Linked DNA regions of Homo sapiens: all the other regions are linked to region 2. The links come from fine-mapping of genetic effects on gene expression. A gene starts in region 2. Each other region holds a variant in brackets. All regions are shown on one strand. Distances are between the middles of the regions. Region 1 holds the start of NUP50 (nucleoporin 50). Region 2 holds the start of PPARA (peroxisome proliferator activated receptor alpha). Region 3 holds the start of CDPF1 (cysteine rich DPF motif domain containing 1).

What was found. PIP is the estimated chance that this variant, and not a neighbour inherited with it, causes the effect.
Region 1: its variant is fine-mapped to the expression of PPARA in left ventricle (GTEx, PIP above 0.99).
Region 3: its variant is fine-mapped to the expression of PPARA in lung (TOPMed, PIP above 0.99).

Annotation. Positions count from the first base shown.
Region 1 is chr22:45,159,532-45,169,385 of GRCh38, forward strand. NUP50 (nucleoporin 50) reads left to right here and starts at 4,394. Exons shown (of 8, transcript NM_007172.4): 1 at 4,394-4,765; 2 at 8,637-8,715. The coding sequence starts at 8,647. It overlaps NUP50-DT (NUP50 divergent transcript), which reads right to left and starts at 4,250. Exons shown (of 3, transcript NR_038956.1): 1 at 4,046-4,250. RefSeq lists silencers at 177-471, 3,906-3,955, 4,726-4,955, 4,986-5,165 and an enhancer at 4,323-4,845. The variant C/G (reference allele first, on the strand shown) is at 5,592.
Region 2 is chr22:46,145,446-46,155,299 of GRCh38, forward strand. It overlaps PPARA (peroxisome proliferator activated receptor alpha), which reads left to right and starts at 5,081. Exons shown (of 9, transcript NM_005036.6): 1 at 5,081-5,207; 2 at 6,443-6,525. RefSeq lists silencers at 4,542-5,151, 5,302-5,421 and an enhancer at 5,632-5,821.
Region 3 is chr22:46,241,056-46,250,909 of GRCh38, forward strand. PPARA (peroxisome proliferator activated receptor alpha) reads left to right here. Exons shown (of 9, transcript NM_005036.6): 9 at 1-2,700. It overlaps CDPF1 (cysteine rich DPF motif domain containing 1), which reads right to left and starts at 9,238. Exons shown (of 4, transcript NM_207327.5): 1 at 9,201-9,238; 2 at 7,117-7,229; 3 at 6,055-6,166; 4 at 2,958-4,183. The coding sequence starts at 7,229. The coding sequence ends at 4,037. RefSeq lists silencers at 8,817-8,986, 9,097-9,426 and an enhancer at 9,021-9,528. The variant T/C (reference allele first, on the strand shown) is at 5,029.

The DNA of each region.
Region 1 (9,854 bases), 990 kb before region 2:
AAACAAGAATTAGAAAAATATTAGCATTAGAAAAAAATGAAAATCTTTTGAGCTGTTTAGGGGAGAAAGCTCCAAGGAACTTAAAAACAAGTGATACTGTCTTATTTAACAGTCCATTTACTCAGCCCCATACTGTGTGCTTTACCTAAGTGTTCACACTTAATCTGTACAACCAAATGAAGGTACATAATACACCCTCGCTTTACAGATGAGGAAACTTGAGCTCAGAGCTCAGTTTGTCCAAGGCTGCCAAGCTGGTAAGTGATACGGCCAGGAGATTAACTCCAAAGCCCCACTGCCAGGCAGATAACAGAACATTTCCTGTTTTCATTCCTTAACATTAGGAGCAAAGTGTAGTTCTGTAGGCTTCCTGTTGGGTGTTTTCTGGTAAATCGTAACAGGAATGACTCCAGGTCGAGGTTTAAGCCTACCTAAAATGAAGGCCAGAACACAGCTAGAACACAGCAATATTATCTTGCCATTTTCTTTGCTAGGTTAAACTGGGCTTGAATGATCTGAGACATTTATGACCTGATCACTGTGGCAAAACTGATACAAAGCTGGCTCCTGGCATGGACCTCTAACAGCAGAAAGAAAGGCAGGATCACATCACCATGGACTCATTTGGAATCAGGTAAAGTAGGTAAACTGACATGTCTGGGTATTTATTTACTGAACATGATGACAATGACCCAGCCTAACAACCATCACAGTCCTTTGGCTCTCAGGGGTTAAGCAAATTGAAAGGGATTTTTGAAAGGCAGAGTATAGGAAAAAAGGGCTAACACCTTTGGAGGAGTATTTCATAACATGAGACTTGAGCTTCATTAAAAGGAAGTAGCCAAATTCAATGGAGGTAGATGTCTGCGTGCAAAGTGCCTCCATTCTTCTGAGTTATAGCCAGTTTAAAGTTGTCATTTTAGCCAGCAATGAAATCCATCCAGTAAGGCGCAAGACAGCTACAGTGCTATCATATACATAAATCTTTTTTATTTGCATTAGAAAGGCATCAGTTATTTCAATGCTACAATGTGTAATTAAGTAAATGTGTTAATCATTTGGCTTACCCTTACAATACTGTATTATTCCAAGAATGAAAGTTCTGATTTTAACTAAGCCACAATTCAATGTTGAGTACAAGAAAGTCTACCTCTACCTAAGCTGCCTCTATCCCTGACATGGTCACAACCTAGAGATCAAGCAGCCAGTTTGTCAGAGGCATTGGAACCAGAGCAATTCCATCTTGAAGAGGCAGTAGGTAAAATCAGGCAGAGACCTGTTGGCTGCATTCTTAGTAGTCACAAGATGTTTAGGGTTACAGGAACAGATTAATAACGTTCACTAAACAAACCCAGGACTTAACAGACCCAGGAAACATTTTGATGTCGCTGTATCTGTTAGTCCAAACTGCACCATTTTCTTTCTTTCTTTTTTTTTTTTTTTTGAGATGGAGTCTCGCTCTGTTGCCCAGGCGGGAGTGCAGTGGGGCAATCTCAGCTCACTGCAAGCTCCGCCTCCTGGGTTCACGCCATTCTCCTGCCTCAGCCTCCTGAGTAGCTGGGACTACAGGCACCCGCTACCACGCCCGGCTAATTTTTTGTATTTTTAGTAGAGATAGGGTTTCACCATGTTGGCCAGGATGGTCTCGATCTCTTGACCTTGTGATCCACCCGCCTCAGCCTCCCAAAGTGCTGGGATTACAGGCGTGAGCCACCACGCCCTGCCAAACTGCACCATTTTCTAAGCCCCCCGCCATTTCGCAGACACTGGTCAAAGCGAAACATTCCACGGGGGTTCAGGCCGTGAGAAATTTCCTGCCCAACTTTCTTACCAAACCCTGTTGGGTAAAGGCCCAATTGAAGGAACATCCCTATCAAACCTTGCTCAGCAAAGGTGCAAGGAACATCACTGTCACTTTCTGAGGGAACAAGGGCCAAACTGCCTGATCATAGAACGTTTTATGGATAGATATACTGGTAAGTATATTCACATGGCAAGCCATACTGCCCATTCCCCTCCTGCCCTATAAGTACCCCAGCCTGTAAGCAGCAGTGGGCTCTGGCATTAAGCTGATCCCCCATCTCTGTAGGTTTTTGCCATATACCTGTGTTGCTGTTGAGCTGCCCTTTGTTTTTTTTTTTTTTTTTTTTTTTTTTTGAGACGCAGTCTCACTGTATTACCCAGCCTGGAGTGCAATGGCGTGATTTTGGCTCGCTGCAACCTCTGCCTCGCGGGTTCAAGTGATTCTCCTGCTTCAGCCTCCCAAGTAGCTGAGATTACAGGCATGTGCCACCACGCCCCGCTAATTTTTGTATTTTTAGTAGAGATGAGGTTTCACCATGTTGGTCGGGCTGGTCTCCCACTCCTGACCTCAGGTGATGCACCCGCCTCGGCCTCCCAAAGTGCTGGGATTACAGGCGTGAGCCACAGCGCCCGACCTGTGTGTCATTCTTTAACTCTCGTCTTCCCTTCAAAACCTAACAATATCTTAAGATCAAAAGCATTCTTCATTTAGGTTTCGCTTTAAAGATAATATAGATCTTTGCCAAAGTCAGTAAACAAAGATGAACAATCCTTGTGTCAGGCCTCTGAGCCCAAGCCAAGCCATCGCATCCCCTGTGACTTGTACGTATACGCCCAGATGGCCTGAAGTAACTGAAGAATCACAAAAGAAGTGAAAAGGCCCTGCCCCACCTTAACTGATGACATTCCACCATCGTGATTTGTTCCTGCCCAACCTTAACTAAGTGATTAACCCTGTGAATTTCCTTCTCCTGGCTCAGAAGCTCCCCCACTGAGCACCTTGTGACCCCCCACCCCTGCCCACCAGAGAACAACCCCCTTTGACTGTAATTTTCCATTACCTTCCCAAATCCTATAAAACGGCCCCACCCCTATCTCCCTTCGCTGACTGTCTTTTTGGACTCAGCCCGCCTGCACCCAGGTGAAATAAACAGCCATGTTGCTCACACAAATCCTGTTTGGTGGTCTCTTCACACGGACGCGCATGAAACCTTGGTCGTGGGCCCTCGTGGTAGAGCCCATGTCCCCCAAGATTTCTTTGGCTGTGTTACCTTAGATTTGAACAAGCACTGTACCTAAGGCGGGCGCCTTCCTCCTCCCGCTTTCAGGAATGCCCTGCTCTGCCATTCTTTTGCTTTCTCACTTCTCTAATACACTTGCTTTCACTTTAGTCCGTGGACTCGCCCCGAATTCTTTCCTACGCGACATCCAAGAAGCCTCTCGCTGGGTCTGAGTGGAGACCTCTTTCTGGTAATAAACGGACTAGGGAGATTCGACTTTGAAGGTGAAAACAAAAACCACCATCCAGTTTATAAGAAGGCGCTCGAGGCCGGGAACGGTGGCTCAGGCCTGTAATCCCAGCACTTTGGGAGGCTGAGGTGGTGGGGCGGGGGGAGGGAATCACCTGAGGTCACGAGTTCGAGACCAGCCTGACCAATATGGTGAAAACCCGTCTCTACTAAAAATATAAACATTAGCCGGGCGTGGTGGCGCACGACTGTAATCCCAACTACTCGGGAGGCTGAGGCAGGAGAATCGCTTGAATCCGGGAGGCAGAGGTTGCAGTAGGCCAAGATCGTGCCACTTCACTCCAGCCTGGGCGAACAAGTTAAACTCTCCATCTCAAAAAAAAAAAAAAAAAAAGGGCGGCACTGGAAACAGCTGGGAGTGACAGGGCCAGGGATGAGGGATCGCAAGCTGCTGGTGAGAAAGGAGCTCAGAGGCTGCCTGGCCTACGGGCCAGGAGACCTCAGCGCAAAAAGCGCAGGACTCGTTCCCCTGCTCTACAGCTGAGTGCCCAGGACGGATCTCACTGGCTGAAAAAAACAGAAGAGAAGGCACCCAATGCAAAATCAAATGTCAGCGAACGAGGGGTCCTTTAACAGGCGGCCCACACGGCCCCTCCTGGCGCCGAGACCCAGCCCCTCCGGGCCACCCCGGCCAGGTACGACCAGCAGGGTCACCTGCGCGCGTCCCCCGAGACGGGGCCTCCTGATGTGAAGCGACCCCAGTGGCACCTCACACGATTCCCGAGGGTTGCGGGCGGCCTCTCCTCAGCCCTGCAGCTCCCACACGCGGACACCGCGGGCCTCGGCCATGTCCACTGACCGACCTTCCTCGCCGGAACTCCTCGCGCATCGCCGGCCCCTCAGCGGCGACTAGCGCGCGAACATCCTGGAAGACGCGTTGCCGGCCCCACGTGAGCCGACGCCCCAAAGCGCGGCTGCTGGCGCCGGCTACGAGATCAAGGTCGGCGCGTGCGCGCTTGCGCGAGACCGGCATTCTCAGCCCCGCGCCGGTTTCCAGGGAGCTGGGCGCATGCGCCGCGTAAGGGGCCCGGCCGGCGGAAGGAGGTGCTACTGCCGGAAGCGCCGGCGCGCTTGCGCAGTAGCTGAACGCGGGCGTTTCTTTCCTCCCTTTTTTTCGAATTGGTTTTGGGGGTAGATTCGAGTTACAAAATGGCCGCCCGGAGCGTGTTCGGCGCGGTTCCCCCAGCTGTCTCTGGCTGAACCGGCGCTCTCGCCTCCCTGCCGAACACAGCGTGAGGAGCCCCCCCAGGGATATGGTGTTTGAGTCTCTGGGCTTGCCGAGCACTAAGTCCTCTGAGTTCCGCAGCGCAGCACCGGAAGCGGCCGAGCGCGCTCAGCCCGGCGACCCCTGCGGGCTCCAGACCCCTGCGCCGCTGCGCCCCGGGTTTCGCCGCAACCAAGACCCAGCGAGTGCAGCGGCGGCCGCCGAGGAGGTGAGGAGCGGCGGCGGGCGCGGGAGGAGAAGAGGCTGAGGGCGGGAGCCTGGTGCTGAGAGCCCAGGGCCGGGAGGGCGGGAGCGGGCTCGGGCCTGGGAGGGGAGTGCGAGTGCAGGGCTGGGGACTGGACCCTGGGGAGGGAGGTGCGGGTTCAGCGCCGGGGGACGGGCCCCTGGGGAGGGGTGCGGGGCCGGGGGACCAGACCCTGGGGAGGGGCTTAAGGGGCTGGAGGACGGGACCCTGGGAAGTGGGGTACAGGGCTAGAGGTCGGGACTCTAGGGAGGGAGCCTGGGTCGGGCGCACGGGCCGGGCGGGGCGCGCGGTGGGGGAGCGACGGGTGGAGGGTGGGGTGGGATGACAGCGGCGACGCAGCCCCGGCTGTTTTTGAAGCGGGGCCCGGGCCCCACCGGGCTGCGGCGTCCGACTCGAGTGAGACTCTCCCCTGCGGCCCCGCCGGAGGTAGGGGGCTGGCAGGGCTGTCCTGGCGTGGTCTTCTCCGTTTCCTTCCTAGCGATTCCTCTCGAGCTTCCTCTCCCCCTGGCCGCCCCTCGTCTCTCTTCTCTTGGGCGCATTACCTCTCTGGCCTGTCTTACTGCGTTCCCGGGTTATTCATCACCCATTTGCTCGGTTCCATTAAGAACCAGCTTGGAGATTAGGTATTTCTGTCTCCTTACTTGGCCCCCTTGTTGTTTTCCTCCAACAAGGCACTTCACTATTAAGTGTAGCCAAATCTGTGTTTTCGTTTTAAGGTGATGTTGACAAGTTGAGCTTTCCAAGGGCAGAGCTACACCAGATGCCAGAGACCACATAACTATATCAGGCA[C/G]AAATAATGTTTTTTTCCAGTTTACCTAGACTTTCAGTCTCCCACCACGTTGCTTCATACCTAGAAATCATGTCTAATTTGGTTTTTTACCCACAAACGCAAACGTTTTTTAAATTCCCTTTTATTGATTGTTTGATTGAGACTGGGTCTTGCTTTGTCACCAGGCCTCAGTGTAGTGGTAGCTCACTGTGTAGCCTGAAGCTCCTGGGCTCAAGTGATTCTCCTGCCTCAGCTTTCCAAGTAGCTGGGACCACAGGCGTGCGCCACTACGCTCGGCTAATTTTTTATTTCTATTCATCTAATCTATGTCCATCTTTATTTTCGTAGAGACCAAGTTGGTTTCCAACTCCTGGCTTCAAGAGATCCTTCCGCCTCCCTTAAGTTCTTCATAACAGTAGCTAGACATAAGACTCCAGGTGCCAGGCCTTGTTCTGAATATTTTACAGAGGGTTTTTTCTCCCCCCCACTTCTAGCATAAAAGTAAAATGTATTGTCTGAAGTGTCATGCTTTGAAATAAAATAGGGATTTGGTAAAATATTTGTAAAAATCTGGTTTGTAATCCAAGTTATTCTTCTTCCATGCTACAACTTTTACGTTTTGGAGGGAAAATGATAGTTTATAGCCTTTGCTTCTAATAAAACTTGTTTCTTTAATAATTTATTAAGCCCTTCCTCTGCTCCAGGCACTGTTCTAAGCCAGTCTTTGTTTATCTTAACTTTCTTAATACTTCCTGTTCCACAGATGAAGAAACTGAGGCACAAAAATTAAATATAACTTGCCCAAGTTCTCACAGCTAGAAAATGGCAAAACTGGGATGCCAGCATCTTTTAGTATTTTTTGAAATACTTTATGCTCACTGGGGAAATACTTCCCCAGCTCACTGATCTAATGACAGACAGGACACCTGCTGTTTGAGCTGGGCACTGTTGGGGCATTTGGAGTATATCTGTAAACAAAACAAAGATCCCTGCGTTTTGGTTATATACTGATTTGGTGAGTATGTTAGGACGTGGAAGCCCCTACATTTATTTAGACTATTTTACTGCGTCACCTGTCTCTTCATTGTGGGTATGAGTTAGAAGTTACAATTTTACTATTACAGTTTTTGTGTATTCAGCTCCATCCCTTTTTTCTCCACAGCTAATTTTTTTTTCTTTTTCTTTTTTTTTTTTTTTTTTTTTTGAGATGGAGTCTTGCTCTGTCACATAGGCTGGAGTGCATTGGCGCGATCTCAGCTCACTGCAACCTCCACCTCCTGGGTTCAAGAGATTCTCCTGCCTCAGCCTCCGGAGTAGCTGGGATTACAGGTGCCACCACCACGCCCAGCTAATTTTTTTATTTTTAGTAGAGACGGGGTTTCACCATGTTGGCCAGGCTGGTCTCAAACTCCTGACCTCAAGTGATCTGCCCACCTTGGCCTCCCAAAGTGCTGGGATTACAGGCGTGAGGCACTTCGCTGGCCCCACAGTTAATCTTAAATAGCAAACGTGACCGTTGGTGACTTCTTACTTCTCCAACCCTCTGGTGGAGACATTAGTTAATGAGTAGGAAAATTGCCAAAAAGAATCCGTACAGAGACCTGGTTTCTGCACAGTAAAGAATTATGTCTATTCCTGTATTTGTTTTTGTTTGTATGACAAAGATTAATGGCAAAACTTAACCAAGTGTTTTTGGGTGGACATTAAAAAGAGAGGGTTCCCAGCGAATGGAAAGTGTATTTATTTCTCATCCTTTATATTTTAGAATCTTGGACTTTAATATCATTTGTAATCAGAAAAATAGCATAAACTTACAAAATTTAAAAATCACTAAAATGTATTAAAAGCTGACAGCCCGTATGTAATTACTCCACTGGCCATCAAATTGTAGAGGCCTTTGGAATACCAGCATTTGCATTTTACTTTTAGATACTAAAGAGTGATATGTCACCTCATATCTTAGCGACCACTTTGTGGGGTTGTAATACACTCTGTATTACACAATACACCAGAATAAGGAAGCTTACTCTGGTGTATTGTGGTGTTGAGAGCAAACAAGAGTGGGGAGAGTATCACGAAGGAGTTCAGGCAGGTTTAACAAGACCTGGCAGGTCCCCAAAACTAATCAGTAAGTTTTTGGGCGAGGTGGGTAGCAGGGGAAATGGAAAGGTTTTTTGTCCAGCTGGAGAGTTAGTGAAGAAGGCAGCACAACACTCATAGCGGAGCTCTGGGTTGTGGGTTTTCTTTGTTTTGTTGTTATGATATTAAGATCAGAAAACAAATCGTAAATTTTAAGGGATGGACAGGAGCACCCTCTTTGGTTAGGTGCCGGAATCCACTGCAGAGTTCACGCCGTTCCCCAACTCCTGCCCCTTCCACTAATGCCATCGTATTGAAGAGTTAAGCCAATGATTTGTTTTTGAAAGGTTATAAGTTCCCAGAATACTAACACACCCATGTTAATCATTTTGGACTTCTAATTGTCTTGGCAATATACAATTTGAAGCAACAAAATGTTCAGTCTTGGGAACCATGTATCTCTGTCGGCTGTAGCTTAAAGAACAGTATTCGTGTTGTGGAGGCGTTTCCAGCCCGTTATTCGTATTCTTACTGAAAGATACACTTCTTTAATGGGTCATCTTTAAGAGAATTTTAAATATTAAAATTATTTTCTTTATGACAAGACTTTCAGTATGTATATGCGTAGAATAAGTTAAGGACTTTTTGATTATATATACAGTACTTCAGATTCCAGATTTTTAAAAAATCAATTGATATTTCATTTTAATTTTTCCAAATGGAGTCGGTTTAGTGTTGTTCAGGACTGCTGGTGTTCCCTAGGAATCTTCTTCTGCCTCCTGGAAAAAGCCTTTATTGATTTGTAACACTGGGAGCCTAACAGCACCAATGTAAAGTTCTCATTAAAGCAGTTTCCAGATGCTTTTTTTCCCTGATAAAAAAACCAGAGATGTTTTTATCTCACTTCATGCTAGAGTGAATTTTTAAAATTCTTTATAAGAATTTATTCTTCTAGAAAAATAAACTCTTCTGTTTTCTATAACTTAGGTTCGAAAACATGGCCAAAAGAAATGCCGAGAAGGAACTGACAGATAGGAATTGGGATCAAGAAGATGAAGCTGAAGAGGTAAAAAGCAGCTTCCCTAAGAATGATTTCCTGTTTCTTTTGCCTTTTACATTCATTTTGGGGTTCCTCATGAAGACTTGTGACAGAACTAAAAGACCTTTCTAAGAACATCATGAATGGGAGATGACAAGAAATTATATGACCTGTACTTAGTGTAGATATTTATTAATTACATTTCTGTGACCTCTAGTTAGTGTAGAAATGTATTAATTACATTTAGATGTGCTTTTCCACTAGTGCCTGCTCCTTAAATATTCTCCTTAGTAGAAGCACTTTTCCTCCTGAGTTTCGTATACTTGAAGCATTCTGAACCCATGTTTGCAGTAAGCCATTTTAGTCATGACTGAAGGCTGAGTTAAGTGATGTAGTCATGAACTTAGCACACTGCCCAGATGTGAAAGTGGTACACCATCACCATCTTGGTCTGTGGTACTCCGTTTCCCTAATGCTTCTTGGAGGCCTGCTTTATTTCCTTTTCTTAATGGTAGACCTGAGACCCCTAACAATTGCATTTATAGGAATAGAATTGAGATTGGCCTAGTTCCTTTTCCAGCAGAATAAAAATGGTCTCCCCTGAGGAAATCTGATCATTTTTCCCTTATAAACAGTAGGACTGGGCAGCATAGAGAGATCCCGGTCTCTATAAAAAAAATTTTTTTTTTTTTTTTTTTTTGAGACAGAGTCTCACCCTGTTGCCCAGGCTGGAGTGCGGTGGCACAACCTCGGCTCACTGCAACTTTTATCTCCCGGGTTCAAGTGATTCTCCTGCCTCAGCCTCCCGAGTAGCTGGGATTACAGGTGTACACCACCACACCCAGCTAATTTTTGTATTTTTAGTAGAGACAGGGATTCACCATGTTGGTCAGACTGGTCTCAAACTCCTGACCTCAAGTGATCCACCCGCCTTGGCCTCCCAAAGTGCTGGGATTACAGGCGAGAACCACCGCACCCAACCCCCCAAAAAATTGTTTTAATTAGCTGAACATGGTGGCATGAGCCTATAGTCACAGCAATTTGGGAAGCTGAGGCGGGAGGTTTGCTTGAGCCCAGGAGTTCAAGGCTGCTGTGACCTGTGATTGCACCACTGCACTCCAGCCTGGGCAACAGGGTGAGACCCTGTCTAAAAAACAAAGAATAAA
Region 2 (9,854 bases):
AGGCACTGGGGCTGGTGTCTGCGAGGCATGAGGCCTGCCTGTCGGCTGTCCTGAGTGGAGAGACAGGACCGGGCAGTGGGCCGCCATAAAGATGGTGCTGGATGCGACAAGAGCCGCATGGAACACAGGAGGTGGTGGCCACACAAGGCAGAGGGCAGCTTTGGCAGGGGGACGGTTGCCAAGCAGGCTTCCTGTAGGAGGCAACTCTTGACAGAGCCCTCAAGCTGGTGGTTACCATGTCCCAAATATGACCCACTCATCAGGCCCCACCCTGCACCACCCCCGTGCTCCCTCCTCAAACTCACACCAGGACCCATCCAGGAAGGCGTCCCTGCCCCATTTTAGAGATGAGGGGGCTCGGATAGCATCACCGGCTGGAGGTTGTAGTTTGAGGAAAAGGTACAGGAGGATTTGAATCCAATTCTGTTGAACTCCAAACCCCAGGCACCCACTCATTCCATGAGGGAAAGTTGGGGGACAGTGCCCACGTGGCACGGTGCTGTGCACGTAAGCTTGCCTGTCTTGTGTGTTTCCAGGCTGTCATGCCAGACCTCATCTCTGCACTTGCAGTCTTCCCTGGCCGCAGCAGTGCCACTCACTGCCAACCACTGGGTCAGATCATTGCAGAATCCAACTCCACACAGAGCAGATTGTCCTTTATGGACCAAATATGTCTATCTGGTTGGGCGCAGCGGCTCACGCCTGTAATCCCAGCACTTTAGGAGGTCAAGGCGAGCGGATCACCTGAGGTCAGGAGTTCGAAACCAGCCTGGTCAACATGGTGAAACCCTGTCTGTATGAAAAATACAAAAAATTAGCCGAGTATGGTGGTAGGTGCCTGTAATCCCAGCTACTCAGGAGGATGAGTCAGGAGAATCACTTGAACCTGGGAGATGGAGGTTGCAATGAGCCGAGATCTCACCACTGCACTCCAGCAAGGACATAAGTGCAGAGCAAGACTCCATCTCAAAAAGAGAAGAGAAGAGAAGAGAAGAGAAGAGAAGAGAAGAGAAGAGAAGAGAAGAGAAGAGAAGAGAAGAGAAGAGAAGGGAAGGGAAGAGAAGAGAAGAAAAAAGAAAAGAAAAGTAAAGAAAGAAAATCCGTCTATCTACACATCACACTTTGCAGTGAGACTCCCACGGCACCTAGCATGACACAGGGAGGGGTCCTGCAGCTTCCAGTCCATGTCCTGGACTGGATAAACAACATCCATGATCTAGCCCTGGAGCTGGATCCTGTGTGACGAGGTGGACACCTGTCCCTTTGGAGGGGCAAAGAAGGGAGGCAGTGCAGCTGCAGGTGGGCTGCCCTGTTCTTCTCAAGATCTACAGAGACAGACATCTGAGCCATGTCGAATGGGCCCTGCTGCAAAGCTGGGGACTGGTTAATTTTCAAAGGGTACAGTGTCATGACAGCAGCAGTTTCTGGACCTGCGGAAGCTTCCAGATCCTGCAAAGCTAGAATGGGTGCACAGCTTAAGCCCCTCCCCACCACCTCAGCTGTGACCACTGGTTAACATGTAGCATGCAGCACTTGGTGCTAATCAGATGGAGTCATGCCTCTGCTGACAACCCTCCATGGCAGGTGTCCCACAGCCCTTAGGACCAAAGTTAAACTCCTCACTGGGCTGCAAGACCTGCCTGGCCAGGGCCTTGCCCAGCTCTGCCCGCTTTGTGCCATCTCCACACTCTCTCCCCTTGAATGTCTCCTGCCACAGGCTTCTGCACATGCTGCTGCCACCCCCCTGGAGCTGTGGGGCCAGGAGCAGCCACCAGGGAAATCTGATCCTTGACCCTGGGCTCCTGAGTCTGCCAGAGGCTGCCGTATCAGCCAACAGACAGCTTCTGCAACAGACAACCGAACCCCGGGGGTACCCAGGGCCAGGTGCTGATGGACTGGGACTCGGGAGAGTTCTCACTCCCTGCCGGGGACCTTGGCCACATGCTGCCATTCCTGGCCCTTCGTTCCTCATCTGTAAGATGAGCATAAGCACAGCTGCCTTGTGGGACTCTTGTAGATTCTGTCCCCTAGTATGACAATACTTTGTTACCTTGGACCCATGGGGTTTTGCTGTCAGTACCAGGATGGCAACTAAGGACATGCCCATGGTTGGCCCTCACCGACGAGGTCCAGCCTTGGGTCGCCAAGCAGCCGCCTGCTCGCTGCCAGTGAGCCCTCCCTTTCTCAGCCCACGGCCCCTGCCCCGGTGGACTTCCACCACCTGACCTGCAGGCACGCTTCCAGGAGCTCAGAGGCCACTGCCCTGGCGGATGACACCCTGGAAGCACACACTCCCCCTTGACAGAGAGCTTTGCACATCAGCAGAGGGCAAGCCAGCAGCAAACTTCGCAGGCCCTGGCTGGCAAACAGACTCCAGCCTGGACCCCAGGCCCATAGGAGAAGCTTCACCCTGGCAGGGTCAGGGAAAGCACTGGGGTCCCTGAACACAGATGACCGTCATCACCTGCTCCCAGCACTCAGGGTCTAACTGCTGCCCTGTACTGAGCGGCCAAGCCCTATCACTCCAGGTTGCCTCCTCCAGCAACCCCTTCCCGTCTGAATTCCCAGCTTCCCAATTCTTTCCCTGAGGCTGTGGGAGAGCCTCGGCTTCTCTGGCTGGCTGGCAGGTCAGCACTTGCAGGAGAGAGCAGCTCAGCAGGGCAGACGTGGGCTTTACAGACCTGCCTTCCGTCCTGCGCCCTGCCGCTGGCCTGGGGGACCCAGTGCAGATGGGGCTTCTCTGTGCCTCAGTCTCCATCTTGCAATGTGGGCACAGTAATAATTACCCTCAGAACATCTTCCGGATCAGAAAATGTAAAAAGGGACCTGAGACAGCATTGTCACCACATAAATGGTAGCTATGAACTAAGATCCATATGCACCAGATGCTCCCAGTAGTCACTAAGGCGCCAGAGAGGAAACTCAGGTGGTGCTCAGAGACATTTTCAGGAGCACTGATTTGTCCTCAAAGTTACAGATTTCTACTCAGTCCCTGCGCCAGCGGTGTTTCTGTTCTGTCGTGTGGCCCTCATTTCATCAGCACTGAAGAAGGTAAAGAGAGACTTCCTGGAGCTGGGAATGGGGGTGAGGGTGTGCCCTTTGTGACAGTTGCTCCCATGCTGGGTGTGTGACAAGGTCTTCGTGGCCAACAGAAAATTGCTTCATCTCTCTCATCTGAGCGTGGTTTCCCAGAAGAAACCTACCACCCCCGGGAAGCATGGATATGGGGCTGTTTCTGGCCAGGATACTCCCAAGAGAAGAGTCCTGAACTTGCTTCTACCCTCAGGACGCCTGCGGGAGACTGGCTGACAGCATTTGATTGAAAATGCTTATTTCTGGGACACATGGATGAAAAACAAGTTTTCTCTCCCTAAAACCTTGGGAGCCCCAAAAAACCCAAGAATATCACTTTCCTATGTCTGCTGAGTGTACGTGACCACTCTGCACACCCCCACATAGCCTTTGTCCTTGTTCATGAGAATGTTCACTAGGTCTTTCAACACCTGGTTGACCTGGGTGGTGCATCTGGGTCACACACCTGTGTGGACCCTGGTCCTTGAGAGTCTGGGATATGGGTATGCCAGGTAATGTCTTTGAGCCCGGAGGTCCTCATGAGGATGTAGCCCCTGAGCTCTGCGTGGGCAGCCCAGGGTCAGCTTCCCTCACCAAACACAACAGGATGACAAGCTTGGATGTGGCTGCCTGCACACCCCACGAGATATGCAGGATATTACGTGTACAGGTCACCCTATAAACTCTGAAACAACATAAATGATAGCTATTGCTGGCTAACATGTGCAAGAGAAGGTGAGGTTGCCGTGTGCCAGTGGGAAGGATATGTGGGTGTCTGGAGGGTGGGGCAAAGTTCACCATAGGTGCCTGGCTAATCAACAAGGGTGAGTTTAAGAGAAGTTTGTGAAAGGGCCAGTTCCCGCCTGATCTCCAGTTCCCCTGCCTAATGAGATCTGGGTTTGCTTTCCGGAGTGGGTCCTCCTGGGCGCCCGCTGCCACAAATAGCACAGTGGCAGGCACAGCTGGCAGCGGAGGGCAGGCAGTGGAGCGGGCATAGCACACATTGCGTTCCCGAGGAGGGGAGCCCTGATGTGCCGGCACCCAGGGGCTTTGTGCATTCCGCTCCGGCAGCTCGAGCGTCACGGCCCGAACAAAGCGGCTTTGCAGGGCGCTCTCCTACTCCTCGCCATTGGCCACCGGGCCGCGACCTCTCCTTGCTCTGGCAGAGTCCCAGCGCCTTGCGTAGGCACAAAGTCAGCCCCTCACCCCCCAGCGCATGAAGTAGGGGCGGGCATGGCTCTTGGGCCGCTGGAGAGGGGTGGGGTTGTGGGGTCGGAGCTGGCGGCGCCTCCCCGAGCCCGTCCGCGTTGCCCTTCACCCTCCTCGTTCCCCCGCCCACCACACCGCCCTGGCACCTCCCGCCACCTGTTTCCTTGTCCTCCCAGCTCGCCTTCCCCTTCTCCTTATTTTGCATCCTGGGGTTCCAGGGACAAGGTCCCTCCCGGGCCGCCTCCCACCCTACGCACTTCTGAGCCTCAAGGGCACCCGGTCCCGGGTCCCGGGTCTAGACCGGCTCATCGCACAGAGTAGCAGAGCCGGGCTCATCGAGGAGGCAGGAGGGGCTCGCCAGCGTGGCACGGGCGCCCGGCGGGAACCTCCACCCGCCCCGCGGCCGCGCGTCCCCGCCTCGAATTCAGCCCCGCCCCGGTGCGCCGGGCTGGAGGGGCGCTGACGCTCAGCGGTGTCCCATCGGTGACCTTGGACGGTCCCTCCACCTCTCCGGCCTCAGTTTCCCTTGGCTGCAGCGGCCGCGGGGCGCTAGGTGGGAGCCGCTGAGCGCTCCCGGGGCCCCGCCCACCGCGAGCAGCCAATCGGGCGCCGCCCTCCGGGGGGTGTGTCCCGGGGCCGAGGCCCGGGGCCCGGAGGGCGCGCGGGGCGGGCGGGGCTTCCGGGTCGGGCCTCGGGACACTGGCTCGCGCGGACCGGGGCAGGGGGCGGGCCGAGGGGCGGTGCGTGTCGCGGGGGCGCGGCTGGCACGGACGCGCGGAGGCGGCGCCGGGCATGGGCCGTGGACGCGGCGGCCCCGCGGCGGGGGCAGCGGGCGGCGGGGGCGGAGGCGGCCGCTAGCGCCCTGCCCGGCGCCGCCTCCTTCGGCGTTCGCCCCACGGACCGGCAGGCGGCGGACCGCGGCCCAGGTGCCCGGGGGCGGGCGGGCGGGCGGGCGGGAACGCGCGCGGGGGTCCGCGGTCCGGGCTTCCCAGGTCCCGGGACCCGGAGGGCGGCGGACGGGGGAGGGGCAGGGGCTGGGCGGCGCATGCGCGGGGCCCGGGGTCTCGGGGTCTCCGGGTCCCGGGGACCCGGGGGCCCGGGGTGCGCGGCTGGGGACCTGAGGGCGAGGAGCGAGGACACACACCGAGGACTCTTGCGAGGGATCTCGGGGCCCAGCTCGGCCTCCCTCCTAGCGCTGGGGGCCTGCCCGGAACCCGAGTCCGCGGCTGTCCCTGGGGTTTGGCGCTGCGCGGAGGTCGGGTCTGGGGACCGCAGCGACTCTGGGTCTTCGGGTTGTCCCCTCGGAGGGAGGGCCCACGGGCGGGGACATCGGGACTTGCCCTTTCCTCGGCGCAGCGGAGCTGGGGCGTCGCCGACTCAGAAGGTGCTTTCCGAGACCTCCAGGGATCTCCGAGGCGAGGAAACCCGGGCCCCGGACAGACCGACCCTGGGTGGGTGCGCCCGGCTTCTGCCGTCGGACGGAGACGCGCGTGTTTGTTCCTCCAGCTGCGACCACCTTTGAGGAACGGTTCCCACTTTGTGCCCCAACGCGGCGGGGCGACCCCGGACAGGCTGCGCTGGGCCGGGTGGCTTCTCTGCGGAAGCCGCGCCACGTCGCTCCCGGTCGGGGCCGCTGAGGGTCGGGCGCCCAGGTCTTTCCGGAGTCCCGGGCTGCGCGGCCCGCGTGGTGCGGGTGAAGCTGGAGGGGCGCGGGGTGGTGCCAGTGGAAGTCAGGAGGGTCGGCCCTGCCCCCTCACGCACCCCAACCGGGCACAACTGCACGCCTGTGCTTTTCTGAAGTCTTTTTTAAAAGTTAAAAGAGAGGAAGTGTGCTCCAAGTGTCAGGATTCTTTCCAAGAAAAACCCACAGTTGTCCAATGGCCTGGGCTTCGTGGGACCTCCGGGGCTGCACGCCCACGTCAGCCTCAGCCGACCCCTGCCAGGAAACCAGGGAGGCCCCTCCTCTCCCAGCCTCCTTGGGATAAGGGTGCCTTGGGGAACTGGGTCAGGGCAAGGACACGGGATTTTCCTGGGAAGGACCCTGCGACACCCGTGTCGTTGCGGGGCAGGGTCAGCATGACTTTCCTCTTCCAAGGTGAAGAGTTGGGGGGCATCCAGAGAACAACCGTAATCACTTCCTCCTTCACCTTCTTACTGCCAGGCTGAAGCTCAGGGCCCTGTCTGCTCTGTGGACTCAACAGTTTGTGGCAAGACAAGCTCAGAACTGAGAAGCTGTCACCACAGGTAAATAGAAGGTTTAATTTACTGTTTCCAGATGGAAATATTTAAGTGTTTTCAGTGTTTACTTCTGTTGCACTACAGACCAGCAATCTGGGGGTTATTACTTTGTGATGCAAGGTTAGATACGTTTTCAGACTGAAAGTAAAATACATGTGCATGGATTCATTTTTTTTTTTTTTTTTTTTTTTTGAGACGGAGTCTCGCTCTGCCGCCCAGGCTGGAGTGCAGTGGCCTAATCTCAGATCACAGCAACCTCTGCCACTGGGGTTCAAGCGATTCTCTTGCCTCAGCCTCCCGAGTAGCTGGGATTACAGGCGCCTGCCACCATGCCCAGCTAATTTTTGTAGTTTTAGTAGAGGCGGGGTTTCACCATCTTGGCCAGGCTGATCTTGAACTCCTGACCTCATGATCCACCTGTTCCTCCCAAAGTGCTGGGATTACAGACGTGAGCCACCGTGCCTGGCCTAGGATTCACTTTGAAGTTCTGAGTTATTGTGTGACTTTTGCTAGGAACTTCATTGCTTCGTGGCAGGCATGTTTTGTATAATTTAAAACTTGATGACATTAACTTTGAGAAACGTGAGTGCTTACTAGACCCTTGGGATGTCCACACTGACTGGTACCGAGTAGTGTACTGTCTCTGAGCTGTTTTCATTTTGATTTGAATATTAAGCAGATGGCTTCTTGAGATAGACCCGTGCCAGAACATGCCAGGGATAGGCTGAAGAAACGGGCCAGATGATACAAATTTGTGTGGTCACCATCCATGAGAGACCAGGGACACTGGGGCTGATGATGACCTCTGCAACTCTGAAGCAAAAGTAAACTAATTGGCAAGTTGGGTGCGGTGGCTCACTCCTGTAATCCCAGCACTTTGGAAGCTGGGGTGGGCAGATCGCTTGAGGCCAGGAGTTCGAGACCAGCCTGGCCAACATGGTGAAACCTTGTCTCTACAAAAAAATAGAAATATTGCCTGGGCATGGTGGCGGACATCTGTAATCCCAGCTACTCAAGAAACTGAGGCAGGAGAATCGCTTGAGCCTGGGAGGTGAAGGTTTTAGTGAACTGAGATTGTGCCACTGCACTGCAGCCTGGGCGCCAGGGCGAGACTCCGTCTCAAAAATAAATAAATAAAATAAAATTAATTAACTAATTGACATTAGAAAAAAATGTTTTTTCTTTCTTTTCCCACATCCTTTTTTTTTTTTTTTTTTTTTTTGTGACAGAGTTTTGCTCTTGTCACCCAGGCTGGAGTGCAGTGGCATGATCTTGGCTCACCGCAACGTCCACCTCACGGATTCGAACAATACTCCTGCCTCAGCCTCCCGAGTAGCTGGGATTACAGGCACTCACCACCACACCCGGCTAATTTTTGTATTTTTAGTAGAGGTGGGTTTCACCATGTTGGCTGGGCTGGTCTCAAACTCCTGACCTCAGGTGAACCGCCTGCCTTGGCCTCCCAAAGGGCTGAGGTTACAGGTGCGAGCCACCGCGCCGGGCCCTTTTCCGACATCTTAAACGTAAAGTAGGAGACGTGTCATAATCATCGAATACTGCAGTGGTTTTCATTAGCTCCTGTTTGTCAAACTTATGAACAGAGTTTTAAAAATTGTGTATCAGCCGGGTGCGGTGGCTCACACCTGTAATCTTTGGGAGGCTGAGGTGGGCAGATGACAAGATCAGGAGTTTGAGACCAGCCTGGCCAATATGGTGAAACCCTGTCTCTACTAAAAATACAAAAATTAGCTGGGCATGGTGGCGGGTGCCTATGGTCCCAGCTACTCAGGAGGCTGAAGCAGGAGAATCTCTTGAACCCGGGAGGTGGAGGTTGCAGTGAGCTGAGATGGCACCACAGCACCCCAGCCTGGGTGACAGAGCAAGACTCCGTTTCCAAAAAAAAAAAATTGTATATGAGAGAGACAGAACTAGACAGAGAAGAAGGAGAAAATGTGTCTTCTTTATACACTATTTTGTAACTTGCTTTATCGAGTAGGTTATGAAAAATCTTCCTATGTGAAAAACATTTCTGCATCATTTGAAATGTCTATATAATATCCCATTGTGTTTAGATACAATAATATTTAGCCAATCTCTTTATGTGTATATATTTAATACAGTCATTCTATAAATATTGACTGAGTAGCTGCTGTGGGCTACTGTCCGCAGTGCTGAACAAGACAAGCATGAATCCATGAAACTGATTTTCATACCAGAATATAAAAAAGAAACTTAAAGATAATCCTCATCATGGTAAAAGATGAAGAACCTATTTTTGCCGGGACATCTTACTCTTTAGTAATTGGTGGCCAGTGTTCTTTTTCTTGCATGCTGTTTTGGAGAGTCTGTTTTTTAAATAAATATTTAAGTAGCCTGGGCGCAGTGGCTCACGCCTATGGTTTCAGCACTTTGTGAGGCCGAAGGGGATGGATTGCTTGAGCCCAGGGCTTCAAGACCAGCCTGGGCAACCTGGCGAAACCCTGCATCTACTAAAAATACAAAAATTAGCCAGGTATAGTGGCGTGTGCCTGTGGCCCCATCTACTTGGGAGGCTGAGGTGGGAGGATCCCTTGAGCCTGAGAAGTGGAGGTTGCAGTGACTGAGATGGCACCACTACACTCCAGCCTGGGTGACAGAGTGAGACCTGGTCTCAAAAAATAAATAAATATTTATGTAATCATCTTTAAGCAGTGTTTTTAATTTTATTTATTTATTTATTTATTTTTGAGACAGGGTCTCACTGTGTCACCTAGGCTAGAGCACAGCTGCATGATCACGGCCTATTGCAGCCTCGACCTCCCTGGGCTCAGGTGATCCTCCCACCTCAGCCTCCCAAGCAGCTAGGACCACAGGCACACGCCACCAGGCCTGACTCATTTTTGTATTTTTTGCAGAGACGGGGTCTTGCTATGTTGTTCAGACCTGTCTCAAACTCCTGGGCTCAAGCCATCCTCCTGCCTCGGCCTCCCATAGTGCTGGGACTAAGCCATGAACCACTGCACCCGGCATAAGTGGTCTTTCTTTAAAAAAAAAAAAAAAAAAAAAAAAAAAAAAAAAAAAAAACCACATTAATTAAAATATGTATTTGCTTATTATAAATATATTTGAAACATGCCAATTTTTCTTCTCTTTTTTTGCTCTATTGGTTTCTGTGTGTGGATGGATATATTTTTAATGGCAAATAGGATGAGTGTCTTTACTTCCAAGTAGTCAGTGTTTTTCTTTAATGTTTGTACTAATTTTGTCACATTGCAGTTAGAGGTTGTGGCCTGTCTAATTTCTGCTTTTTTGGAACTTGAGAGTCTCTGTTTTTATTTGTTTTTGGTAGCCTGGCA
Region 3 (9,854 bases), 96 kb after region 2:
GCCATCTCACCAAAGGATTATTCGATGCCATTAAATCATCCCGTGACCTTCCTGCTTCCGAGTCCATGGCCTTTGCCCAGGGCATGTACTCCCCTGAGAGGCCTTCTGCCTAGAAAGATCTATGACTGGGTTCCAAAGTTGAGGCCTAGGTTTTTGCTGGGATTTAGATATTTTCAGGCACCATTTTGACAGCATTCAGGAAAACGGTTATTGACCCCATAGACTAGGGTAAGAATAAAGGCAATAAATTTGGTCTGACTCAGAATATAGGAGATCCATATATTTCTCTGGAAACCACAGTGTACACTAAAATGTGAAATTGAAGGTTTTGTTAAAAAGAAAAAGATAATGAGCTTCATGCTTTGTTTAATTACATAATGATTTCCATTACGCTATTTCTGTGAAATGCAGCAGGTTCTTAAACGTTATTTCAGTGGCATGGGCTGGAAGCTTATCACAAAAAGCCATGTGTGTGGCCTTATCAGAACAGAAAGAGACAGGCTGGTGCCCAAGGCTGCTGCCTGCTCCACCTTTTGCCAGCTCTGGACATCTGAGGACGTCCCGGCAGATCTGGAATGGGGCCCTCAACTGACCATTTGCTTCTCAGAATTTCAGTTTGAGACATGAGAGGTATAATCAGTTACTTTTCTCCCCCCAGAGAAACCCTTTTGTGAGGGGAGAGGAGCTATGGTATGTGGTTCAGCTGAAACACATACAACTGCATCCTTTTGGAGTCCTTTGCCAACAAAAACAGACCAACAGACCAGATGGTGTCCATGTTCAATATCATGTCTTGATGGACGCAGCTGATGACCTCAAATACTTGAGTGGTCTCATGGCTGTTAGATGGATTATTTGAAAAAAAAAAAAAAAAAAGAGAGAAAAAATAATTGATTTTTACATCAGAGATAGCAAACTAAGACCTGGGGAGGGGGGTCAGCTTTTATTTTATTTTATTTTTTTTAAGTTTGCTAGTTGGGTCAAATGTGAGGAGGAGGGAGTCTACCTGCCACCTCTTCTCTTGCCCCTCTTCTGCCCACACATCCAGCATCCAAAATCCATTCATTTAATGAATTGATAAAGTGCCGTGCAAACTGGTGCACAAACAGGCCCCCAGTCCACGCAGCCTGGCTCCTAGGAAAAGTGGTGACCGGGCGTGGGGGGGCATGCCGCAGCCCTGGGACACAGTCGGGCACCTTCCCCGGACCCCCAGGCCTTGGCTGTGCCTCAAGTCAGAGAGGGTCAGCCTTCAGGCCCCGGAGACGAGTGACTGGCCGATCATTTCACAATAAAATCACTCACTTTTGGCAACTTCACTTTTTTTAAGGCACAGTCAGTTCCTTTTCTCATGTACCTCACAAAAGATGAAGACCATGTAGTACTCTTTTTGGTAAAGTTACAGTGTTCATGTTAAATATCACTTTTTTCTACATTGTGTGGTAAAAAGAACTACGTTAATAGCTATATCTTAAATACTGTGATTTGACTTTTTGAAAAATATCCTAATACAAATATTTTACTAACTTACAATCACTCATTTAATAAGAAACATTTGGATTCTTTTGAAATCAGTGTTAATTGACTCATATTCTTAAAAGCCTGGCTCTTGACCCTATTGGAAACACAAAGGAAGCTGAAATCAAACATCTAAAATACACTGCGTACACGTGTGCGTGCACACACACACACACACACACACACACACAGCTCTTCATTTCTCCTGAGCCATGCAGAATTTACTTTCAATGTGGAAATCTGTTCCCTTTACCACACTGTATATGCACAGAGCACAAGAGAGGCTATCTCTAGTCACTTCCACCAGCGAGGCCTTAGACTCCGTATTAGAGGCCACCGATTTCATACAACAGTGTTTCGCTAAAGACCCTTCACTATTCTTGTTTAGTAAATAGCTGTCTGCTCTTCAGGGAACTGTTACCTATGGGTTATTACCAAAGAACGCTGGCAATTGGAAATGTCCTGATGGAAATTCTTTGCACGTGCCGGTTCTCTGGCATCCTCCAGGTGGCCCAACCCAAAGCAGAAAGCAGAAACCACAGACCCCGTGAGTCTCCCCATACCTTGTTTCCAATAACTTGGCAAAACTTCTTGGTGCATATTGGTTACACCCTCTGGGATTCATAATGCCATTAGGCTAAAACCCTAAGAGAGAGGGTTGACAGAAACACACGCGAGAATGAGGCAGATCCCAGAGCAAGGACTGGGCCCAGACTCTCCACATGTGCTCTACTAGTGAGTGCCTTATACTCTCAGTATTTTGGGGCTTACAGCTTCTTATTTGTGCTAAAAAGGTGCAGTTCCAAAGTAGGAACTGCCACACAGGCCCCAGCATCCTCTCTCCAACTTCATACCTCTCTCCTGGTGGGGGGAGCGGGCATCCAGGACCTCCGGAATCAAGGATGTGCAGAGAAGAGCGAAAGTAATTTTTCTAGTCACATGAACTGATTGGTTCCAGGCAATTAGAAAATGGCTATAAAATAACCTTAATTTTAAAAAAAAATCTTGGGTCTTCGTTTTCCTATTAGGAGACTGAACTGACCACATGTATTGATTTATATCCTGAATATATGGGAACTTCTGTGTTTGGGATGTCCTACTGTAAGACTGATGAATGTACAGAGTTAATTTCAGGGTACAGTTTTGCCTTAATGGTTTTAAAAAATAAACTATTTTTTAAAATTTTTTGGTGAGTTTTGAGTGATGCTGCGAGATGGACTGTTTGGTCTAAAAGAACCAAGTCCCCAGCTGTGGGGTCCGCCCTCCGCCAGAACAGTCCCTGCGCCCCTCATGGAGGCTGTCTCCACCTGCACAGTCCCTTTTGTGTCCTTCAACATACAGAATGGATCAAGGACAATCTGGCTCCGGAATACGACATCCTTTCGTCTGAAGTCACATACAACGGGAACTTTTAAAGCAGTGAGCATCTTAAAGTCCATCAGTGCACAAGTCAGTAAAAACTCTTTATTCATTCCTTCATGTGACAGTTGGCCTTGAGTAGTTACAAAGACAGAGCAGTTCCTGCCTCTCAGAATTCTAAGCAGACATTCCAGAGCTCACAGATCAGTGTCCCACCAGCTGCTACCCTGGAAGCTTCAGGGAGATGGGGAGCCTGGAGTAGGGGGGTGCTGCAGGAACCCCCGGCAGGCAGTGGGGCCAGGCTTCACAGGCACCCAGGGCTGAGTGCGAGATGGCAGGGGGCAAGCAGGCAAGCAGTGGGATGGTCTTGAGGTGTGGGGTGAGGGCAGGAAGCCCACGGTATTCCTGACTTGGAGTCGAGGGAGACAGAACGGAGGGGCCCGAGCTGAAGACAGAGTCTGAGGGAACTGGAGAGGCTAGAAGCCAGCACTCAGCTTCCCAGGAGACCCCAACTATTGCCGGGCCAAGTGTCCAGGGAGAACGTCGGGTATCCAAATGTTTCAGTGGAAGATTCCTTTTCCAAACATGAGCTGGTTCTTTGGGTTTTTAATTATAAACATAATACATGGTCAAGGTTAAAAACATTTTCCAAGCACCACATAAGGATATGAAATAAAAATTCTATCCCCCTCTAGACCTTCCAGACTGGGTCCAGAAGGAGCTGCTGTCAGTGATTTTCCTTACAGAGAGACCATTGCAGCCACCTACAGTGCACCATGGCCCCGACACAGTGTGGCATCTCCCCCCACACGCACCTGCACGCAGCCTCTTAGGAGCTGCCCTGCTGAAGGAGGTCATCCCTCTCAGTCACATCTGAGCAGCACTCACTCAGGCCTGGGCCCTGAGGGGCATGTGGGGGGACCTGGCCGGGTTCCTGGCTGTGTCTTGTCTGGCATCTGCCTTTGGACTACCCTCTTGCTACAGCTCCCTGGGCCTGTGGCTGCTCCAAGCTGGACTCCAGCTCCCCTGGGCTGCAGTGCTGCTCCCAGTGGTCCAGAAACAAGGCCAGGCATGGCGGCTCCCAGCTCAGCAGCATCCCTGGCGCAGGCTGGCCCAGGAGCTCTGTGCAGGGTGCCGCCCGATGACCTAGCCCCAGTTGCACTCACGTCCGAGAACCGGGCTGGCTGGGGGTCCTCTTTGATGGAGCTTTCCTTTTCTCCAAGTCTTGCCGAATTTCCTGAGGAAAAGCATTGATGTTCTCCCGGACACAAGGGAGGCAGAATCTCTTGGAGTAGAATAAACTGCATTCCTTAAAGAAGTGGACAAGGATGGAGGCTTGAGTATCCTGGGAACATGGTGCAGCTCCTCCCAGGGGCCAGCCCTTCCCACACTTGGGGGGCTGGGCTGGGGCCCCAGCATGCACAGTGTGGGCAGGTGGCCAGAGCTAGACCAGCAAGAGGGAGAGCCAGGCCTGAGGGCCTGGCAGGGTGTCCAGGAGAAAAGCAATGCAGGCCTGGGCTACCCTGGGTGGGAACAGCTGGGATGGGACAGAAAGACTCTGGGGCCTGCTCTGCTCCATCACGGGGCAGTGACAACAATGGAAAGCTGGAGCACAGGCCATGCCCCGAAAATCCCAGAGTCCTCCCGTCCCAGCTATCGCAGCACGAACAGTGGCCACCTGGTGCTGGGAGCGGCAGGGGACAGGAAGGACAGCCCCACAGACCAAAGACGCCATGGACGAGCCAGCTAGTCTGGGCAGGAGGCCAGAACCGTGCAGCCATGTCCGCTCTCCTCTCTCTTACACACTAGAACTCCCGAGATTCATCACGGTGCACAGCACGTGGCTAAGGATGACATTCCCCAGCCCCCTCTGTAACTGGGCATCGCCATGTGACTCAGGCTGGTTAGGGGCGTCAGCAACTGTGTGTGCCACCTCCTGGTCATGCCCTTTGAAGGCATGGACTGTGCTCTCACGTCCCTTCCCGCTGCCTGGGATGCAAATATGATGGTGGGAGCTCCACAGCCACAAGGGACCCAAATAGAGACTCTGCTGAAGACAACAGGGGTGCCCTTCCAGCCAAGGCCACCAGTTCTGGACTCTTACATAGGAGAAAGTAAGTAAATAACTATTTGCTTTACTTAGGCCACTCTTAT[T/C]TTTGGTGTCTGTCTGTTCTTAAAGCTTAGTGTGCTCGCAAACATAAGGCTGCCCTCCTGCAGTTCTTAGAAAAGACCCTTCGCCATGGAGATCCGCTCACTAACAACCTACTGTTTAAACAAAGAAAGCTGCAGACTTGTGGTACCTGCGTGCGCCCCCCACCCCCGCCACCCCGCTGCTCACGAAGAGCAGCCCAAGGCCAAGGTGTTGCATTCAAGACCTCCACCTCCCCACCTGGCCCACCCACCTTTGCAGTCTTCCTTTCCCAGCTTCTCCTGGACCACCAGCTCCTCCATGAGCCTCAGATACTCCCATGCCACACTGCGGAGGCTCCTCCCACCCTGGCCCATCTCGTCCCCCTGGCTATTGATACAGCTCCCCTTTGTGTGTGTCAACCTGTGGCAGATGCTCAGGGACTTCTCAGACTCTGGGGTCACTCTGAGTACACTGGGCACGCTGTGAAAGCCATGCTGCTCCACTTCCATCCGTCCTTGGGTTTACAGCTACCCAGGTGAACCTGGCCCACCCAGCCTCTCTGAAGCTCAGTTCCCTCATCTATAAAATGGGTGGAATATAATACTGCTTTACCTGACTAAGGGGCAGGACTGAATGAAGCCTCAGCAGTAAAACAGGTCCCAAGCACAGGACCTGGCACACAACAAGTGCTCATGAAAGGACAGTCCCTTCTCCTGGAGATCCCTCCAAGAACATCTAGAAAGTAAGTCACCATCCTGGTGAGAGGGCGCACAAGGACTGTCTGCACTGTTGGTGGGAAGGGGAGGAACCCTGAGGGGCCACTGGGGTGGGTGCAGAGCCACCAATTACCTATTTCCATTCCTACACCAGGCTGAGACCCTCTAACTGACCCTAGCTTGCCCTCTCACCTCTCCCCTTCATCAGCTGAGGGGCCCCATCTATAATGGGGTGAACCCGCTGCTCCCTCTCTCCCAGCCCTCCCTACCCAGGGAGAGCTCCAGGATAACCACAGCAAGGACAGGTGGCCCCAGCCCACGCTGCTTACCCACCGGGCCCACACACACCAGCCTGCTGCACAAACTGCAGCACGAGCCGAGGACCAGGAATCTGTCCTTGTCGGAGGTGAAGGGATCCTTCATGACATAGCTTTCCTCCAGGAGGCTGCAGGAGAGTGAATGCAGCGTCAGAACAGCCCAAATCTCTGCCGTCGGAAAATCAGCCATGACCTATGGCCAGGCAGCAGCAGCCTGCACCTCTGCAGGGCCTGCATACCTGCGTGGGCTCATCAGGGCAGGGGACTAGGCCACCCGTGCTGCAGGGCAGTGACAGAAAGGATCAGCAATTGGGGGCCACACTGGCACTGAAATTGAACCTGCTCTCACCTCTGTAACAGCCATGGTAGAGAGAACCCCTTGTTCTCAGCCAAAAGCAGGGCTGCTGCAACATGGGCCCCCAGACCCTGACTGATTCACCACAGTGGGGGCACAAGGCTGCCACCTGAATACCCCAGGCCTCCCTACACCCCAAGCCACACCCTCACAGCCCCTGGAAGCCAGCTGGCCTCATGCTACACATCAGAATGAGACCCCAGGGTGACATGATGACACTCAGGCTCCTGGTCAGCAGAGGGACGACAGCCAGAAGGAAAAAGCCATGCCCCTGCCACTGCATCCCATGTGAGTAACACACCGGCCAGCTTTCCAACAAAGTGGCATTTGATGAAGGACAAGCTGGAGGTCAAGAGATAAGCCCCCTGACCCACTGGCTCTAATCCAGGTCTGCAGGGGAGACAGGCCTCCCATTAAGAAAGTGTCATGGCAAGGGTGCAGCCCCAAAGGGGGAGGCCACCACAGGTCCCCCAGCTGCTGAGCTGCTCCCCCACAGCTAGAGCAGGTATTGGACTCTGGGCTAGGTGTGGAGGAAGGTTCTGGAAGAGTCAGACCTCAAGCCTTGCCCAGGCCTCCAGAGATTACACCAGAAGCATTCAGAGCCTGGCCAGGGTGGGGTCTAAAGCTCCACACCTGAGACAGTTGTCAGACCTAGGCACACCACCCACCAACCAGCACTGGGCACAGGCCTCCCCGGCACTGGCCCAAAAGGCATGCACTCACACCATCGACTGGGTGTTGGGGGGCTTCTGTCCCACATAGCTGTACGGAGCTGTCAAGGTACAGAGTTCACACTCAAACACTCCCAGAGGACGGCACTCTACATGGGACGCCATCTGCAAGATCAAGAGATGGGGTGTCCCTGGGTCACAGGCTTTCTCAGGAATCCTGCCCCTTTCCCAGCTATGAAGACCCTAACCATATAGTCCTAGCACAGTTTCTTGCCTCCCTACCGTACCCTTTTCTCTATCCCCAGCTGAAACAGGTTTTCACCGGTGCCCAGAGTGACAGGATTTGCTGTCCATATTCCAATGGTTTAAGGTTTTTGTACTGCTAGAGAGAAGGATCCAGACAGGATCAAGCCAGAGCACCCATCTCTTCTTCCAGGTCTGCACCACGGTAAAAGCGTTCCGGTCTCCTGCTCTGCCCCATTCTTTACCACAAGCCCCCAGTGAACGCTGGTGGAGAAGGGCCCAGAGTGGGTGCAAAATCTCCTGTTTCTGCTGCTCCTAGAAGCTCTATGCCCTCACATTAGTCCACACGTGGTGTGGACATTAGAACTGTTTTCTTGGCCAGGCGCAGTGGCTCATGCCTGTAATCCCAGCACTTTGGGAGGCCAAGGCAGGCGGATCACGAGGTCAGGAGATCGAGACCATCTAGCTAACATGGTGAAACCCCGCCTCTACTAAAAATACAAAAAATTAGCCAGGCGTGGTGGCGGGCGCCTATAGTCTCAGCTACATGGGAGTCTGAGGCAGGAGAATGGCGTGAACCCAGGAGACGGAGCTTGCAGTGAGCCGAGATCGCGTCACTGCACTCCAGCCTGGGAGACAGCGAGACTCCATCTCAAAAAACAAACAAACAAAAAAACTGTTTTCTTATCTGCTTGTATGGAACCCCCTTCTCATGTTCATGGTTGGGTCTTGGAGGCCTCTCTTTCCTTAGATTTCTGGCTAAATGGCTGCCATCTGATGGGTTCATCAAAAGTTACAATTTTGCTGATTACCCAGCTCCTTCTTTGACTATGGAATCAAGTACGACATTATCAGCTGGCCCCTAGCTCTTGGCTGTGACCTCCCCTCGCCTGAACTGAGCGTGGTGTATAAAGGCGTATCAAATGCGATGGCTTTCCCCACTGGGTGTCCCCAGATGCAACTCCAGGAAGCATGGGTTACCAGTGACTTTAAAAGTTAAGTCTGGCCCGGTGTGGTTGCTCATACCTGTAATCCCAGCACTCTGGTAGCCAGAGGCGGGCGGATTACCTGAGGTCAGGAGTTCAAGACCAACCTAGCCAACATGGCGAAACCCCATCTCTACTAAAAGTACAAAAATTAGCCGAGCATAGTGGCGGGTGCCTGTAATCCCAGCTACTTAGGAAGCTGAGGCAGGGGAATCACTTGAACCTAGGAGGCGGAGATTGCAGTGAGCCGAGATTGTGCCACTGTACTCCAGCCTGGGCGACAGGGCGAGACTCCTTCTCAAAAAAATAAAAATTAAAATTAAATAAAATAAAATATTAGCCGGGCGTGGGGGCGGGCGCCTCTAATCTCATCTACTCAGGAGACTGAGGTAGGAGAATCGCTTGAGCGGGGGGTTGGGGAGCGGGGGCTGGGGGGGCGGAGGTTGCGGTGAGCCGAGATCGCGCCACTGCATTCCAGCCTGGGCGACAGAGCGAGACTCTGTCTCAAAACAAAAGTTACGATCGATCGCGGGTGTGCGTGAACCTGATCCCGCTTCTCTTCTGCACGCCGGGGCGTCCTAGGCCCCTGCCGAGGCTCCTGGGGGCGGTGCCTGTGAACAGGGACGGCTGAGAGGGTCCGGGGATGCTGGTGGTCCCCGCGAGCCTCCGCCTGCCCTCTCTCGCCCCAGCGCTGCCCGAGGTCAGGGGGGACAGTCCCGTGAGGCCCACACCCCGCTTCTCGGTCCCGTCCCCAAAGCTGAGAGCGGCTGCGCCGACTCCTGGCGCTTGGAACCCAGCAGGCCACGCCGGCGCGGAACTCAGTCCCGGCGAGCGGGAGGCACCCTGAGGCAGCGCAGGGAAGGGCCACAGCACGCTCGCCCCAGTCACTCTGCCACCTCGAACTCACCGCCGCCCTCGTCCCACGGCTCCGCGTCCAAGGCGCCTGAGCGGCCCCGCCCCACCGCGGCCCGGCCAACCCCGGTGCAGCCGCAGACGCAGGCGCGGAGCGGGAGGCGGGACCTCGCGGTGGTTTTCCGCCTCTGCCTTGCTTTTCCGGTCGCCGCGGTCCTCTGCGCGGGATGTGGCTCTGAGCTTCGGGGTAGTCCGCGAGGCTGGGTTCCGTGCTGAGGGGCGTCGCGTCTGGCCGTGCGCTGCGGGAGCGCGCGGGCCTGGCCCGCTGTCCTGGCCGCTGCGAGGCGCTCAGCTTCTTTCTGAGTGTTCCGCCGGGTTCGACAGGGTCGAGGTCGCCGGCGCGAGGCTCCCGGATAGCTGAGGGGCGCGAGGGCGCCTCCAGTCTCCCACCTGCCCTCCCGCGCCGCGGACTAGGCTGCCAGTCTACCCCACCGGGACGTCTGCCCCCGCATGCAGGAGGGGGTGTGTCGGCCCAACGGGGTCTCAGGACCTGTCCCTGCTCCTCCAAAGCCCACGTCGCCTGCGGCGCCCCTCGGGTCTGCGCCGCGTTCTCCTTTAGCCTCCCGGGCCTCTCCGCTGCCCCTCGCCCCCAGGCACCAGCCACACCTGCTTCCTTCTGTTCCCGCCCGTGGCCTCTGACACGCCGTGC